2 linked regions of the Homo sapiens genome follow. The protein of the gene in region 2 purifies or fractionates together with the protein of the main gene of each other region. This does not show direct contact. Each region holds a gene or a part of one and is shown on either strand. Other genes may lie near its edges.

Region 1 (3,071 bases), on a different chromosome or scaffold from region 2:
CCAGCTACTCAGGAGGCTGAGGCAGGAGAATGGCATGAACCTGGGAGGCGGAGCTTGCAGTGAGCCGAGATCGCACCAATGCACTCCAGCCTGGATGACAGAGTAAGACTCTGTCTCAAACCACCGCCCTCCCCCCCAAAAAAAACCCCAAAAAACAATTCTGTCACAGTTCAAGCTTCTGTATTTGGGGTACTTGCCACAGAGGAACACTGGTATTAAATATAATTGAAGTAGACCAGATTTTCACTGTTTTATAGATAAGGAAGATCAGGGATATTGAGAAAACTGCCTAGCCCAGGTCCTCTGGAGAATCATTAGTGGCCCAAATGATAACCCATATTCTTGCCCAGACCACTAACATATACTTTCCAATAGGGTGATAGTACTTCTATAGTTTATAAGTTATACAAAGTATGAAATAAAAATATTTCATAAACTGTAACCCCTTTTTAAGTCACTAAAATTGTATACATCTATGTTAAAAACCACACAAATCTCGGTTCATTTGGGGCACTTTTATTTACAGCCAAGGAAAAAAGAAAACTAGCATCTATTTAGAATGGGAAAGCATGTTTGTATGAAAACAAATATTTCATCATCACTTATTTTCTATACTGTTTGCAACTAAGTTTTACATTTTTCATTTTCAACAGAGATTTGAATTTTAATGTCCCAGAAATATAAAGAAGATGGCATTAAAATGTCCTATATGTTGGCAGTCCTACCCTGAAGACTTTTTTTGCTTATCTTTTGTTCTGAGCTACAGTCTTCGCAGAGACTAAATTAGTGACTGGACAACAGAAGAAAATAGACCATCCTGGCTAAAATGGTGAAACCCCATCTCTACTAAAAACACAAAAAATTAGCTGGGCATGTTAGCGGGTGCCTGTAGTCCCAGCTACTCGGGAGGCTGAGGCAAGAAAATGGCGTGAACCTGGGAGGCGGAGCTTGCAGTGAGCTGAGATCGCGCCACTGCACTCCAGCATGGGGGATAGAGCGAGACTCCGTCTCAAAAAAAAAAAAAAAAAAAAAAAAAAGAAAATAGAAACGGGAAATATTCATGTCAGCTGTTAAAAACCAGTTTTGTAAAGCAAGGCCTAAAAGTCCTATCTCTGGCATGTTTAGTATGGAACGTATAGTTGATTGTCATTCAGCTACTAGAGAAAGGTATTCTACAATGGCAGATAGCCTTATCAAAACAATTAGCCGGCTTTCTCCACAGGGAATAGCAGTGGGGTAAGTAAGACTGAAGTGAGAGCTCTTATCAGTTTTCTCAGAAATGATTTCTCCATCATAGGTATTTGGCCAACTGGTTAGGTCTAGCATGAACATGTGATTTCTAAAACAATGAGCTGAGATCTGCTAACATGTTGTAAAGGAGCATCTAGTAGAAGCTGATCTCTAAGCAAAATCACCAATTTATTTAAGTTTCAAAAATTTTTTTTCCATAAATATGTTCTTTAACATGCACATTCTGCTTACATTGTTTAGGGTGCTTTTTATTGTGCCTAAAAATTTGCAATATGGTGAAATAAAATATTTAAAAATGGTTGAATACCATACGGAAGATGAAATCTCATATTTATAGCATGTAATTCAATTCTCATGTATGCATAATTAATCAAAATTGTGTCTTTAAATGACATCTTGACATTTTTTGAATTGCACTAAGAAACACTAGTGTCTACCATTCATTTTAACAGACTTATTTATGTTTAGCTTTATTAACAGTATAACATTTTCATGCAATCTTAAATTTTGTTTTAATTTTTACAATGTTTGATTTAATTCAAATTAACAAATATTCAAGCCTACATGAGAGACAAATGAAATGAGACTACCTTTATATATAATCAGCAAAATTCTTTTTAAGAGTAAAAAGTTAATATTGGGATTTAAAAACCTAAATTTCCAATGTTACTGCTGACAATCCAATCCAACTATATGTATATTACTTAGGCCACAGGACTGCCCATTAGTCTTTCTTGTCGGAGAGCAATTAATCTCTTGAACCATTTTTCCTCAGCATCAGCTTTCTCGATAAATAACTGAAATAAGAAAAGAAAAAGAAAAAATGTTACTGTCTCCCAATAACTTGAATTTGACCTAAAATGACAGAACTCACCTTTGTAGAATATATCTCTCAACACAAGATTTGGATACTGTTTAACTCTTGATGACCTCTTAATTGATGACTATCTATTTGGAATTAGTAATGCTCAGAAATTCTTGGAGTAAAAGAACTACTAGTATCAACATCATTGCTTAACAATTTTGTACCTTATATTTGTGAAGTTTATTTCCTATAACTTTTCCAAAACAGCAGAATTACAACATTTCATGGAAGACAGCAAAGTATGATGTTAGTGATGTGCTCACTGATAATGAACAAAGTAGAGCTCAGAAATGGAACTTTTAGTGCTAGATTTTTAAACAAACACTTCTCATGGTGCTGATCAATTCAGCTAAAAAAAAAAAAAAGGAAAAAATGCTTCTCTTTGTCTATTTTTCTTAACCATAGACAGAATACTTCTACAGGTTAGGCAACATGAGTTGGACCCTACTGTATTCAAATATAGATAACAGTTCTAAAGGCCTGGGGGCCAGATGCCTATTTTTAGCAAGGGAATATGAACCTGTTTCCTCCAATGGTCTCCTTGGTGTTAGCACAAAAGGATAACAGATTGAAATAATTTCAGTAAATTAGACTTCAACTGACATTCGTAAAGTTTAAGGATATTACATTTGGATGGGCCAGGGAATTGTCATCTTGGTACTTGATAGCAGTAGGGATGCTGGTAGGATCTATTTCTTTTTCAGTACTGGGTGGATCAGCAACTGCTGATGCTGGTCCTGATGTTGAAGTTGCTTGTTTCACTTCACTAGGTTCCACTGACTGAAAGAAACAACACATATTAATTTCAACACAATACACAATTAGAGTTTTACTTCAAAAATATTTCTGATTTTGAATAACAACTGTTCAATTAGTCTCCTTTGAGATGATACCCATCTCCAAAAAGGCCCTACTTTTTGTATTTGTTTGTTTTAGAAATACAGTTATTTTATTT
Region 2 (3,500 bases):
CCATCTAGGAAGGGAGCCCTCCTCCAGAACTGAGTCAGTGGACACCTTGATCTTGGACTTCCCAGCCTTCATACCTGTGAGAAAATTATTTTCTGTTGTTTAAGCTACCCAGTCTGTTGTATTTTATTAAGGCAGCCAATGTGCACATGAGGTATATGGTAGTGGTATACCAAAAATGTTTAGTTACAGGTTGTATCTGAGGGCTAGGATTATGGGTAACATTTTTCTTTATACTCAGTATTTACAGCAAATGTCACTTTTGTAAGAAGGGGGAGAAAAGTATACAAATAAAGCAAAGGTATTTTAAGTGAGTTTAAAAAAGTGCTTAAAAATGAAATAGTTCTCTTCCTTCTAGTTTATTCAGATTATACTTTTATAGATATAACAGACTTTTACCTGATTACAAATGCAGTATCGAGGTTCATTTGGGTCGTAAGTCCAATCAACCTGACTATTTGAATCAGATTCTGGCACTACAGTTGTTTGTTGAGAGATTTCTTGTACAACAGTTGATGATGAAGAACACGATGATAAGGAAGAAGAGGAGGAGGAAGATGATGACTGCTGGCTTGAAGACTTGTTGTTGTTTCTGAAAAAAATAGTATAAGTTTTATTTGCTCACCATCCAGAAGTTAACTGAGAATAACTCCTAAATAAATAGTATAAAATGAAATGACATCAAATGTATAAATTAAAGTGTAAGCTAAAGTAATCCGGATTTACCAATGACTTAAATTGTAGGTAGTACTTTGAAGAATTAACATAAGTTCTGGCTACTTTACAGACATTATTTGTATTTTTTTTTTTTTTTTGAGATGGAGTCTCGCTCTGTTGCCCAGACTGGAGTGCAGTGGCGCGATCTCTGCACACCGCAAGCTCCACCTCCCAGGTTCACGCCATTCTCCTGCCTCAGCCTCCCGAGTAGCTGGGACTACAGGCGCCCGCCACCATGCCTGGCTAATTTTTTGTATTTTTAGTAGAGATGGGGTTTCATCGTGTTAGCCAGGATGGTCTCGATCTCCTGACCTCGTGATCTGCCCACCTCGGCCTCCCAAAGTGCTGGGATTATAGGCATGAGCCACCCCGCCCAGCCACTCATTATTCGTATTTTTAAGTAAACTGAATACTCTTCATCAAAACCTAAAGCACACACACACAAAAACATTTGATGAAAGTGGTTATAACCATCAACTGATGTGTGAATACCTACCATGAGTATGGCAGGGAACCAAGACTGTAAAAATTCACAAGTAATTTACTGCTAAGCCCTATGCTATTTAAATTCTAAAAGTATAGAACTTTATCATAAGAAATTACATTAAACTTGTACCATTAAGATGAATTAATTTTTAAGATGTTTGACACTTCTGTTGTGGTTATTTCATATTGATCGTTCTTTAAGGGATTAATTCACAAAAAATATAACATATTTTAAAATACAGAAAATATAACTACTAGGTAACTAATTATTTTGGCCTAGCATTTGAACTTTCATTATGTATAAACACCCAGCATATTCAGTTACCTGGGATAGACAGTGATAAATGCTATTAGGTTTTCATATTTAAAGCTTATACAGTCATCCCAAGTCTCATATACAAAATCTAGGGATATTTTTACACCATCAGTTTTTGGGACCCAAGACTAAGAATGAAGACGCCTTGCTTGCTGTTAATCAAAATGAAAAATCTTGTTTAAAAAAAAAAAATCACCAGGATATAATTTGCATTGCATTAATTTACCTTGAAACACATGGCAAAATAAAGGGTAATAAATGAAAAGCAGTTCCATAAAATGATTTATCTTAATGAATAAAAGAAGATAAAAAGAAGTCATGTATTAACAAACTCAATTTATGACTCTAGAAAAATTAAAAACAACTCTAACACTTTTTAAAGACTTGACACCTTCAAAGTATGGCACTATAAAATGAAAACCGCATGTCTCCCTACCTCTGCAAGGTTAATTTTAATCCGTTATATCCTGCCTTTAACATAGAGAGGCCTGGCTGAAGTGTCAAGTAGACCAAGTGTTCAGTAAAGGTATAGGGCTACTGTAACAATAAAACTTACTTGCTCTTTCGACCACTCCGTGAGTCGGCTGCTGATGAACTGGCATTCTGTGTTAATGTTGTCATAAGTGCCGAAGATGATGAATAGCCAACTGTTTCCCTGGCCATTGAAAATTCTTTTCCCAACTGAAAGTCATTATTCTTAAATGCTTCATAACTGGCTTTTAAACTTGATGTTCTTCGTCCCTCCTTCATCTTAAATAGACATTCATTGATAGCATCAATATATGTAAATATGTAGATTTTCTTTTTCAAGTTTTACAAATTATAGTTTTATTTTGGTTTATCAAATGTTAATTTATATTGTTTAAACTATTATTTTCATCACTGGAATTTAAGCTTTTTTTTTTTTTTTTTTTTGAGGTGGAGTTTCAATCTGTCGCTTGGGCTGGAGTCTAGTGGCACGATTTTGGCTCGCTGCAACCTCCACCTCTCAGGTTCAAGCAATTCTCCTGCCATAGCCTACCGAGTAGCTGGGATTACAGGCACCCACCAGGCACCCAGCTAATTTTTTTGTATTTTTAGTAGAAATGGAGTTTCACCATGTTGACCAGGCTGGTTTTGAACTCCTGACCTCAAGTGATCCACCTGCCTCGGCCTATCAAAGAGCTGGGATTACAGGTGTGAGTCACCATGCCTGGCCTAACCTTTTTCATTTAAAGATTTAAAATAAGATTTTACACAGTTAGAATATAAACTATGGGATGGGCAGCTTCTTAATTTGGAATATAGGCAAACTATACAGAAGTGAACAAACTCAAGATGACCTAAGTCCAAGGCTACAGGGGAAGCCTTGGAACTGGCAGAAAGAACGAAGAACTATGCTAGCATGTGCTGTGGACTGCAGTCAAGAACATGGGCAACATGAGCAGTTATTGTGAGAAGGGTCTGCATGTAATCCGCATGATAAACCTATTTTTTAGTTTTCATTATCAATCAGGCAATTCCTATGTATTATTTCATTAAATAAAATATCACATATCGTGAAATCATGACTTAAAAATGAAAATATACAACGTTAGAAAACTATTTGTTCACATCCCGTTATTTCTATTAGGTTTCCAATGATTCCGACAAAATGTAACATTTTGTCTCTAAACCCTTTACTTTTTACCTGAGCTGTAGCCTGAACTGCTTGAGCAGCTGCCATGGTAATTGCCCCTGCACCAGTTCCTGAAGATAACGAGCCAATGTTATAGGATCCCAGAGGTTGGGAGGAATTCACATTGTAGGCATTGTTAGAAGAGGCTGTGGAATTATTATTTCGACAACCTGTGTAGATGTAAAAAAGAAATAAAAATGGTTGCAGAGAACATAATGTTAGTGAGTCTAAATTACATTATTTCCCAGCACAGACATATAATCATTAAAATTTTTAATGTCACTTGTACATTAAGTCAACTGAATAATGTATTTGGTTTTCCTTTTT

Evidence for each region. Proteins that work in one complex are often made in the same cells at the same time.
Region 1: the proteins of ING3 (region 2) and RSRC1 purify together in Homo sapiens (affinity purification with mass spectrometry; one large-scale study listed by BioGRID and IntAct). This does not show direct contact.

The regions. Positions count from the first base shown.
Region 1 is NC_000003.12:158,543,160-158,546,230, reverse strand, and holds the end of RSRC1 (serine/Arginine-related protein 53), read right to left. Parts: intron 2,897-3,071; coding exon 2,744-2,896; intron 2,049-2,743; coding exon 1,956-2,048; 3' UTR 501-1,955; downstream 1-500. UniProt on the Homo sapiens protein: Has a role in alternative splicing and transcription regulation. Involved in both constitutive and alternative pre-mRNA splicing. May have a role in the recognition of the 3' splice site during the second step of splicing.
Region 2 is NC_000007.14:120,967,777-120,971,276, reverse strand, and holds part of ING3 (inhibitor of growth protein 3), read right to left. Parts: intron 3,344-3,500; coding exon 3,186-3,343; intron 2,267-3,185; coding exon 2,073-2,266; intron 590-2,072; coding exon 397-589; intron 77-396; exon of another isoform or gene 1-76. UniProt on the Homo sapiens protein: Component of the NuA4 histone acetyltransferase (HAT) complex which is involved in transcriptional activation of select genes principally by acetylation of nucleosomal histones H4 and H2A.